Regions from separate parts of the Homo sapiens genome. Here regions 2, 3 and 4 are each linked to region 1. The links come from fine-mapping of genetic effects on gene expression. A gene starts in region 1. Each other region holds a variant in brackets. All regions are shown on one strand. Distances are from middle to middle. Region 1 holds the start of MPND (MPN domain containing). Region 2 overlaps SH3GL1 (SH3 domain containing GRB2 like 1, endophilin A2). Region 3 overlaps YJU2 (YJU2 splicing factor homolog). Region 4 overlaps YJU2 (YJU2 splicing factor homolog).

What was found. PIP is the estimated chance that this variant, and not a neighbour inherited with it, causes the effect. A credible set is the group of variants that fine-mapping cannot tell apart.
Region 2: its variant is the best candidate, but not a certain one, in a credible set for the expression of MPND in thyroid (GTEx, PIP 0.83).
Region 3: its variant is the best candidate, but not a certain one, in a credible set for the expression of MPND in liver (GTEx, PIP 0.50).
Region 4: its variant is the best candidate, but not a certain one, in a credible set for the expression of MPND in whole blood (INTERVAL, PIP 0.50).

Annotation. Positions count from the first base shown.
Region 1 is chr19:4,342,274-4,345,013 of GRCh38, forward strand. It overlaps MPND (MPN domain containing), which reads left to right and starts at 1,289. Exons shown (of 13, transcript NM_001300862.2): 1 at 1,289-1,327; 2 at 1,435-1,721. The coding sequence starts at 1,321. RefSeq lists enhancers at 201-320, 341-1,072 and a silencer at 1,141-1,430.
Region 2 is chr19:4,363,531-4,366,030 of GRCh38, forward strand. It overlaps SH3GL1 (SH3 domain containing GRB2 like 1, endophilin A2), which reads right to left. Exons shown (of 10, transcript NM_003025.4): 4 at 1,952-2,095; 5 at 558-691; 6 at 190-348. Among named protein-coding and RNA genes, the nearest start is that of MPND, 21 kb to the left of the region's middle. RefSeq lists an enhancer at 2,392-2,500. The variant G/C (reference allele first, on the strand shown) is at 1,176.
Region 3 is chr19:4,258,262-4,261,001 of GRCh38, forward strand. It overlaps YJU2 (YJU2 splicing factor homolog), which reads left to right. Exons shown (of 8, transcript NM_018074.6): 5 at 1-162. Among named protein-coding and RNA genes, the nearest start is that of YJU2, 13 kb to the left of the region's middle. The variant G/A (reference allele first, on the strand shown) is at 1,142.
Region 4 is chr19:4,254,719-4,257,458 of GRCh38, forward strand. The region is part of intron 4 of YJU2 (YJU2 splicing factor homolog); the gene reads left to right. Among named protein-coding and RNA genes, the nearest start is that of YJU2, 9.0 kb to the left of the region's middle. The variant T/C (reference allele first, on the strand shown) is at 1,598.

The DNA.
Region 1 (2,740 bases):
AAAGTGCGTAAGGAGTTGGGGAAATAAACTGAGGCCGGTTTGGGCTATGCTGAGTCTGCAGGCCTTGGGGATGCCCGTTGTTGGCTGGACAGTCAGGGTGGGGCCCCTAAAGGGTGCCTGGGCTGGACAACAATAGTTCACATGTACCCAGCTCTTGCTCTATGTCAAGTCTTCTTCCTGAGAACATTCCCGAGCACCCTGGAGAGCCTCCCCCGCACCCCTACTGTCCAGTTCCCACTTCCCGACTGCGGTCTGGGCAAAGCCACCCGCACTTGAGCCCATCCCACGGCGTCCCGGAGCTTTAGGAAGTCCCCATCCCGGACTTTCAACCCTGCCAGGGACTGAGGGAAATCCCAGAGCCTGGGCTCCGGGACGAAGGTCCCAGGACAGGGTCGGGGATGTAGTTGCAGAAACAGGGTAGGGGACAAAGGCCGGGGCTGCACTGATCAGGCGCGCAACGAGCCCGGCCCTGCCTCCTGCTCCGCCCAAGGGTATGGAGGGCCGGACTCGGCTGGCCTTATACCCGGAGCTGATTGGCTGGTGAGTCCAGTCCCTGCCTCTGATGGTTTGCGCTCATAACTAAGGGTTTCTACTGATTGGTTTACATGGACGTCTGCCCATTGGTCAAATCCGAGTTGGTGTAATCAGATAGTTGACACGGATTGGTTGGTGCGGGAATCCAGTAGCTTGCTATCGATTGGTTGAGGGTGAAATAAATGGGACTCTTATCATTGGCTGGCGGGCTCCGCAACGGTCCAATCATGGAATCAGTCGAGGGCCGCCCGGGAGGGTGGGAGTTAATTCTTTAGCGACTGAGGCCGGCTTGGGCTCTTTGGCTCCACCTGTGTCTGCGCGAGGCTGTTCCCTATTGGAGTCCGCATTGTTCCCCTGGACCTGAGTTTCTCCCCTGGTCCTAAAGGCCGAGGCCTCTGAGTTCCTCAAGTGCGGTGACCGCAGGTCTCACCTTCTCCTCTCCTTGCAGCAGGCTGAGCCACTCGCGCACCCGCCCCAGGCTTCCACCTTGCAACCTCTATCCCTGGACAGCGAGGCCTCAGTTTCCCCATTCGCACCAATGAGCTCCCGGTCAACACCCCGTCACGCCTCAGTTTCCCGAATGTTCCCAGAGGGCTGAGTTCCCGATCTCTCTCCCGCGTGGGCATCCCCGAGGCCTCAGTTTCTCCGCCCACCCCAGCGCGCCGAGCCCTTCCCCCGACCCCGGCGACGGCCAATGGTTGGGGCGCCCCTCCCCTCCCCGGGGCGGGGCCGCGTGACGTGCCGGGAAGCCGGAGTCTAGAGCTCCGGGCGCGGGGAGGCGCGGCCATGGCAGGTACGGCGGGCCCAGCGGGGCGGAGGCGCGGGGCGCGGGGCTGCAGGGGCGCGGGGCTGCAGAGCCGTGGGGCGAGCGGCCTCCCTGCAGCCTCTCGCTGTCCGCAGCTCCGGAGCCGCTGTCCCCGGCGGGCGGTGCGGGCGAGGAGGCGCCGGAGGAGGACGAGGACGAAGCGGAGGCCGAGGACCCTGAGCGGCCGAATGCGGGAGCGGGCGGTGGACGCAGTGGCGGCGGCGGCAGTAGCGTCAGCGGAGGAGGCGGCGGCGGCGGGGCCGGGGCGGGGGGCTGCGGCGGGCCCGGGGGCGCGCTCACCAGGCGCGCGGTCACACTGCGGGTGCTCCTCAAAGACGCGCTGCTGGAGCCTGGCGCCGGGGTGCTGTCCATCTACTACCTGGTGAGCACCCCGCCTCCCTCGTCCCATCGCGGCTCGGGCAGGAAGGGGAAACTGAGGCCTGGAGTTCCCTTGCTGCAGGACAAGCTTCAGTGTAGGGAGGGGACACTGAGGCCCGGAGCTCCCTTGCTGAGAGACGAGCCCCGGTGTGGCGAGGGGAAACTGAGGCCCGGGGCTCCGTTGACTGCAGGAAGAGCTCCAGTGTGAGGAGGGGAAACTGAGGCTCGGAGCTCTCTTGGCTGCAGGAAGAGCCCCGACATGAAGAGGGGAGACTGAGGCCCGGAGCTCCCTTGGCGGCAGGAAGAGCCCCGGTGTGAGGAAGGGAGACTGAGGCCTGGAGAGCTCCCTTGCTTTAGGACAAGCCCCAGTGTGGGGAGGGGAAACTGAGGCCCAGAGCTCCTTTCCTGCAGGAGGAGCTCCCGTGGAGGGGACACTGAGGCCCGGAGCTCTTTTTACGGGACAAGCCCCATGTGGAGAGAGGAATCTGAGGCACAGATGGGTCCTTCTGGTGGGGAGGACGTAGATTACCAAACACCCCATCCCACAAAGGAGAAGCTGAGGCTCAGAGAGGAGCCACCACCCGCGCAGGGTCAGATGGGCAACACCCCGGCCTTCCTGTGGTTTCCCAGCCGTGAAATGGAATATTTCCCCACCATGGGAAAATTAGGGGATGGTTAAATGAATAAAGCCCTCAGCAGGCGCCTGCCACATGGTAAGCACTTTATCTGTGGTAGGTATTAGTACTTTTTTTTTTTTTTTTTTTTTGAGACAGAGTCTCGCTTTTTTGCCCAGGCTGGAATGCAGTTGCTCGATCTCGGCTCACTGCAACCTCTGCCTCCCGGTTCAAGCGATTTTCTGCCTCAGCCTCCCGAGTAGCTGGGACTACAGGTATGCGCCACCACGCCTGGCTAATTTTTTTTTTTTGCAGTTTTAGTAGAGACGGGGTTTCACTATATTGGCCAGGCTGGTCTTGAACTCCTGACCTCGTGGTCCGCCTGCCTCAGCTCCCAAAGTGCTGGGAT
Region 2 (2,500 bases), 21 kb after region 1:
TGACTCCCGAGGTGAAGCCACAGGAGGCAAGGGGGCTGAGAGGGGACAGGGGACTGGGGCCCATACCCTCCACCTCCCCTGCTGCAGCGGCCAGGTAGGTGCCGATCTGTCCTCCAGCTCCCTTGAGGCACCACCCCGGCCTCCCAAGGGCATAGGTCTTCTCAGGATGTGACACCCCGAGCTACTCACGTCAGTCTCCAGGAGGTTGTGCATGCTGGTTTCTGCCACCTCCTTGGACTCCTCGAACTTCTCCAGCGCCTGGCGTAGCTCCTCATCGGGGATCTTGCCCTGCCGCTTCTTCTTGTAGTCAAAGTCCAGGCGGCGGCCCTCCAGTTTCTTCAGGTGGTGCTGGAGACGTGGGGGACATGGGTCACACCAGTAGCGGCCAGAGGGCCGCCCCACGCATGGCTTTGACCCACTGTCCCTGCACCACTGGGGATCCTGCCTGCCTGAGACCCAGAGGGCAGTGCCGAGGCTGGAGGTGAGGGTGGCAGGAATGGGGCTGCCCCATCCGGCAGGGGGAAGGGACAGGCCCCAGGCTGGCGCAGGAGCAGCACCTGGATCTCCTTCAGGTCTTTCTCGCACAGGTTCTGGAGGGGGTCAATGAAGTTCTGCTTGACCTCGATGTCCAGGGAGTCCTTCACCTCTGCCAGGCGCTTCATGGACTCGCCGGCATCCAGCAATGCGTCACCTGTGGAGAAGTGGTGGGGGAAGCCATCATACCGGGCCTGGGACCACTAGACTGAGACACTCCTCAGCCTTTGTTTTTGAAATAGCGTTTCACAGGCTGGAACGCAGTGGCGCTGTACCAGCTCACTGCAGGCCTCAAACTGGGCTCAAGCCATGCTGGCACCTCAGCCTCCCAAGTAGCCGGGACCACAGGCGTTCACCCCCACACCTGGATCCTTTCCAACTTCTTTGAGATGAAGTCTCGCTGTTGCCCAGGCTGCAGTGCAGTGGCATGATCTCAGCTCACTGCAACCTCTGCCTCCCAGGTTCAAGCAATTCTCCTGTCTCAGCCTCCTGAGTAAGGGGGATTACAGGGGCCTGCCACCACATCCAGCTAATTTTTGTATTTTTAATAGAGACGGGGTTTCACCATATAGACCACACCGGTCTCGAACTCCTGACCTTGTGATCCGCCCGCCTCGGCCTCCCAAAGTGTTGGGATTACA[G/C]GCGTGAGCCACCGCACCCGGTTTTTGTTTTGTTTTGTTTTGTTTTGTTTTTTCATAGTCTCGGCTCACTGCAACCTCCACCTCCTGGGTTCAAGTGATTCTCCTGCCTCAGCCTCCCGAGTAGCTGGGGTTACAGGCATGCACTACCACACCCGGCTAATTGTGTGTGTGTGTGTGTGTGTGTGTGTGTGTGTATATATATATATATATATTTTTTTTTTTTTAGTAGAAGCGGGGTGGGGTTTCTCCATATTGGTCTTGCTGGTCTCGAATTCCCGATCTCAGGTGATCCACCTGCCTTGGCCTCCCAAAGTGTTGGGATTACAGGCATGAGCCACCACACTTGGCCCCATCCCAACTTCTAACAGCCCCCCAACACTCTAAGCCCAGGGCCCGGAAATTGGAACTCAGGGCAAAACAAAGGATCCTAAAATCCGAATCGATGCTGGACGTTAAACCAGACCCTCCAATGCTCCTAAAAGGGCCTAGGTTTGCCCTTAACAGGTGGAAGGACAGATGCTGGGGGGTCCAGGCCCTGGGGAAGCAGCTGGCTTGAGTTGGGGAAGGTCTGGAGCTACAGGAAGGGGCCCTATCAGCTGCTGGCCAGTGCTGGATGGGTTGGTCTGTGCAGTCTCCTGCACCTCTGCAGCTGGAAAGCTGTGGGGGCCACTGTACGTCCCCGGCACTCAGCACATGCAGGGCCTGGACCTGCCCTGCCTGTGTTGAGGTGTGGCCTCCAGGGACGGTGGGCGTGGCTTCCAGAGAGCACCACTCACCAAAGTTGGACTCGCCGCCCAGCTCCTTCCCGTGGCGGATCATGCACTCGCCCAGAAGCCCCTCCGACTGCGGGTAGCCGGGGTTCTTCACCTGGCCCCGGATCTTGGACACCGTGTTGAGCATGGTCAGCTTAGCCCGCGAGGCTGGGATAGGATGGCCAGGTGGGTGTGGGCTGTGAGGCCTGCACTCCTCTGCCCTGGCAGACTGCAGCCCCCACATCTCCTCCCCACCCTTGCTTCCTGTGCCTGTGGACAGCCTAGGCCACACAAAGCACAGTGGAATCCCCAGAGGGTCCCTTCCCTGCTCCTGCTAGCCTCAAAGGAGCTGGCAGCGGGTGGAGAGGTGACCAAGCTCCTCAGGGGGCAAAACCTCCTCCTTCCAAGGGCTGCTCCTCTTGGAACGTGGCTATGACCCCTCATCTGGGGGGTGCCAGGGAGGAGGCGCAGCAGTGATGTGCAGCGGGGGGTGGTTGAGGCCAAGGCTCCCGGGGTGGGTGATGAGCTGTGTCCCTTCCGCTGCCCGCTTGGGTCTGCTCCTGGCAGGGCCTG
Region 3 (2,740 bases), 84 kb before region 1:
GGACTCCAAGCTGGAGATGGAGGTGCTGGAGAACCTCCAGGAGCTGAAAGACCTGAACCAGCGGCAGGCGCACGTGGACTTCGAGGCTATGCTGAGGCAGCACCGCCTGTCGGAGGAGGAGCGGCGGAGGCAGCAGCAGGAGGAGGACGAGCAGGAGACCGCGTGAGTCAGGGCCGGCCCAACCCAGCCCCACCTCGCAGCCTCTGCCCCGGCAGGCGCTGCCTCTGCCCCAGACCCTTTCCCCGCTCTCTGGAGTGTCGCCTTTGCAAGGACCCCTTTCCCACCGCCCATCTCACTTTCTCCCTTGTGGCGTCTCTCGAGGGGGTCCCAGGCCACTGCCGGGCACGGTGACTTAGCACGTGGTCGCCCGCATGGCTGCGGTTTGTCACAGCGAGAGGACACAGCAGATTCAGCAAAGGGGAAAGGCATGTGTGGTGTGTCGGGGGCCAGGCCTTCCAGATCCTCTCCTGGTGGAGCTTCGCAGGACGCGCCTCATCCCCTAGCACCAGCCTGGAGGACTCGAGAAAGGCGCCATCACTAGGGAAGCTCCTAGAGACCCAGCGTGGGGTTCCTATGGGGCCTGGTCCCACAGCCCCCGCTGCCTCACCCATGCCGGGATTCCAGACTCCAGAGGAAAGCAGGGGTCACGCATAAACCATGGTGTTTGCAGGAACAGCTGAAGCCCCAGAGCCCGTCCCATCCATGAGGGTGGGAGGCCCCCAGCACAGGCTCCCGGACACCCACCAAGGGACGCCCTCACCAGCCGCCTTCTGAGGACACAGCCTCAGGCCTCCTGGGTGAACACTTTTCTTTTTTTTTTTTTTTTTTTTTTTTTTTTTGAGACGGAGTCTCCCTCTGCTGCCCAGGCTGGAGGGCAGTGGCGCCATCTCGCTCACTGCAAGCTCCGCCTCCCGGGTTCATGCCATTCTGCCTCAGCCTCCCGAGTAGCTGGGATTAGAGGCATCCGCCACCAAGCCCGGCTAATTTTTTGTAATTTTTAGTAGAGATGGGGTTTCACCGTGTTAGCCAGGATGGTCTCGATCTCCTGACCTCGTGATCCGCCCGCCTCGGCCTCCCAAAGTGCTGGGATTGCAGGCGTGAGCCACCGCGCCCGGACGACGCTTTTCTTTTTCTTTGAGAC[G/A]GGGTTTTGCTCTGCCGCCCAGGCTGGAGTGCAGTAGTGCAGTCATAGCTCACTGTAGCCTCCATCTCCCGGGCTCAAGCGTTCCTCCTGCCTCAGCCTTCTGGGTAGCTGGGACCACAGGGACACATCACCATGCCCAGCTAATTGTTTTTATTTCTGTAGAGACAGGACCTCGCTATGTTGGACAGGCTGGTTTTGAACTCCTGGCCTCAAGCGATCCTCCCACCTTAGTCTCCTGAAGTGCTGGATGACACGTGTGAGCCCCTGTGGTTGGCTGGTGAATGCCTTTGACGCCGACCACCTCTGAGCCCGCGTGCTGATCCCCTCCTTTCCTGGTGCCTCATCTCCCCTCCCTCCTTTAGAATCTGAGCTGTAAGGACAGGGACGTGGTGGCCTCTCCTGTGTCCCCAGGGCTTCCAGCAGGTAGGTTCTGGTAGGTTCCACGTCAGTGCCTGATGGGTGTGCAGAGCAGCGATACCGTGCAGAACAGTGTTGGGAGCCTGCGTTCATCCTGCACCTTCCGGGTGCCGGGCGTGGCTGTAACCTCACTACCCACACAGCCCTGGGGGTCAGTGTGATCTTCATCATGGAGGGGACTGAGGTCCAGGGAGGTCCAGGCATGAGCCCCACCAAGGTTACCCTCCAGGCTCCATCCAGACAGGCTGGTTCCGGCATCCAGGCACTTAACCACACCACTGCCCTCGGTGGACACGGAAAAGTTAATGTAAAAAAGTAGAAGGGGCCGGGCGCAGGGTCTCCTGCCTGCCATCCTGCACTGTGGGAGGCTGAGGCGGGCGGATCACCTGAGGTCAGCAGTTCGAGACCAGCCTGGCCAACATGGCGAAACCCCATCTGTACTAAAAATACAAAAACAAATTAGCTGGGCGTGGTGGCAGATGCCTGTAATTCCAGCTGCTCCAGAGGCTGAGACAGGAGAATTGCCTGAACCCGGGAGGCAGAGGTTATAGTGAGCCGAGATGGTGCCACTGAACTCCAGCCTGGGCGACAGAGCAAGATTCCTCCTAAAAAAAATGAAAATTAAAAAGTAGACTAGGTGCGGTCGGTGGCTCACGCCCGTAATCCCAGCACTTTGGGAGGCTGAAGTGGGCGTATCACCTGAGGTCAGGAGTTCGAGACCAGCCTGGCCAAGATGGTGAAACCCCGTCTCTACTAAAACTACAGAAATTAGCTGGACATGGTGGTATGTGCCTGTAGTCCTAGCTAACATTTTTAATTTTTTTAGAGACGGGGTCTCGCTATGTTGCCCAGGCTGGTCTCTAACCCCTGGCTCAAGCGATCCTCCCGTCTCAGCGTCCCAAAGAGCTGGGATGACAGGCATGAGCCACTGCATCTGGCCCCTTTAATCTGTTTTATGTTTAAATAGAGGAAGTGGTAACCACTGGGTTAAGGAAGTCCCAATGGGTGCTCTGCCCTCACGGAGCTCACTGTGTGGGGAGGGAGAGGGACAAGGAGACCAATACCCAGGACAACATCCATCTGGGTGAGAGAGAAGCCAGGATGCGTGAGCTTGAATTATGAGGATGAGCTTCTCAGAGGAAGAGCGTCTTGCATTGGGTATTGAAGGTCGAGTAGGAGTTC
Region 4 (2,740 bases), 88 kb before region 1:
AGACCAGCCTGGCCAATGTGGCGAAACCCTGTTCCTACTAAAAATTTTAAAACTTAACACTGGGCGCAGTGGCTCACACCTGTAATCCCAGCACTTTTGGAGGCCGAAGTGGGTGGGTCACGAGGTCAGGAGTTTGAGACCAGCCTGACCAACATGGTGAAACCCCGTCTCTACTAAAAATACAAAAATTAGCCAGGCATGGTGGCACGCTTCTGGAATTACAGCTACTCAGGAGGCTGAGGCAGGAGAATCGCTTGAACCGGGGAGGCAGATGTTGCAGGAAGCCGAGATGGCGCCACTGCACTCCAGCCTGGGTGACAGAGTGAGATTCTGTCTCCAAAAAAAAAAAAAAAAAATTAGTCAAGCATGGTGGCGCATGCCTGTAATCTCAGCTACTTGGGAGGCTGAGGCAGGAGAATTGCATGAACCCGGGAGGCAGAGGTTGCAGTGAGCCGAGATCAAACCACTGCACTCCAGCCTGGGCAGCAAAGCAAGACTCTGTCTCAAAAAAAATAAATAAATAAAAGAAATTATGTTCACTTCCAATAGGACAATTTTGTATTTTCTCAGAAATATTAAAAGGAGCCATGCATGGTGGCTTGAACCTGTAGTCCCAGCTACTTTAGGGGTTGAGACAGGAGGATCACTTGAGTCTAGGAGTCAAAGACCAGCCTGGGCAACATAGTGAGACTCTGTCTCTATAAAACATTAAAAAATTAGCCAGGTGCTTGCCAGGCGTGGTGGCTCACACCTGTAATCGCAGCACTTTGGGAGGCCAAGGCAGGTGGATCACAAGGTCAGGAGTTCAAGACCAGCCTGGCCAAGAGGGTGAAACCCCGTCTCTACTAAAAATACAAAAAATTAGCCGGGCATGGTGGCAGACACCTGTAATCCCAGCTACTCGGGAGGCTGAGGCAGAGAATTGCTTGAACTCAGGAGGCAGAGGCTGCAGTGAGCTGAGATCATGCCACTGCACTCCAGCCTGGGTGACAGAGCAAGATTCTGTGTCAAAAAAAAAAAAAAAAAAAAAATCAGCCAAGTGCTTTGGGAGGCTGAGGCAGGCGGATCACCTGAGGTCAGGAGTTCAAGACCAGCTTGGCCAACACGGCGAAACCCTGTCTCTACTAAAAATACAAAAATTAACCAGGCGTGGTGGCACGCGCCTATAATCCAAGCTACTCAGGAGGCTGAGGCAGGAGAATTGCTTGAACCCAGGAGGCGGAGGTTGCAGTGAGCCAAGATCGCGCCATTGCACTTCAGCCTGGGCAACAAGAGTAAAACTCTGTCTCAACAACAACAACAAAAATTAGGCAGGTGTACTGGTGTGCACCTGTGGTCCCACCTACTAGGGAGGCTGAGGCGGGAGGATCACTTGAGCCCAGGAAGTTGAGGCTGCAGTTAGCTATGATCACATCACTGCACTCCAGCCTGGAAGACAGCAAGACTGTCGCAAAAAAAAAAAAATATATATATATATATATATATATATGTACACACACATATACATATATATACATACACATATATATATAAAACAGATTTTTAAATGACTGTGTTCCCTGCTGTCCCCTCCTGCTTCCATATTTCCCATCCATTC[T/C]TATCTATTCCTGGACCCACCCACCCCTGCCAAATGTGAGTTTTCTGAGCAAGCCACATCAGACCAGATACAACATTTTCCATGGCCATGCAGAGCAACAGGGAGGGAAATGAGCCTTGGCAAGGGTTTGGTGTGTGCCTGGGCCTGTCGCACTGCTGTCTGTGTGTGAATTTAGTTACCTCCACACTGACAGCAAGGGGCTCTTACCCTGGTGTTAGTCAGCTATTGCTACATAACAGGTTATCCCAAAACTTAGTGACTGAAAACAACAAACATTTATTATCCCACAGTTTTTGAGAGTCAGGCATCCAGAAGCAGCTGAGCTGGATGGTTGTGGCTTGGGGGCTCCCATGAGGTTGCAGTCAAGGTGTTGGCCAGGGCAGTATCATCTGAAGGCTGGACTGGGGCTGGAGGAGCCACTCGCAAACTGGCTCCCTCTACTGGCTGTTGGCTGTCAGCCTCAGTTCCTCGCTGTGTGGGGAGCTGCTTGAGCAACCTCACAACATGGCAGCTGCGTACCCCAGAGCATGTGACCCAAGAGTGAGAGCAAGGAGGAAGGCCTGTGCTTTTACATCCTAGTCTCAGAAGTTACGTGCCATTATTTCTGTCATATTCCATTAGAGCAAGTAGCTTGTCCAGCCCCTGCTCAAGGGGAGGGGAGTCACCTCCACCCCTTAAATGGAGGAGCATCAGAGAGTTTGTGGACATACTTTTAAACTGTCAGAATTGCCATTTTTCCAAAGGGTAAATACAACAAGGTCACAGCACTGGGAAGCAGCCAGGCAGGATTCACTCCCAACCTGCCTGGCTCCAAAGCCACTTCTCAGGGACCCGTGGCCACCAGACTCGCCTCCCTCAGCCTCAGTTTCCGTTTCTGTAAAATGGGGGTTGTGAGGATTAAATGAGATGGCATATGGAAACCTCTTAGCCCAGGGCCCGGTGTACAGTAGGTGCTCAGGTTGTCTTTTACAATTTTTCCTTAATATTATTATTTTTGAGATAGAGTCTCGCTCTGTCACCCAAGCTGGAATGCATTGGCACGATCTGAGCTCAGTCAACCTCTGCCTCCTGGGTTCAAGTGATTCTCCTGCCTCAGCCTCCCAAGTAGCTGGGATTACAGGTGTGTGCCACCACGCCTGGATA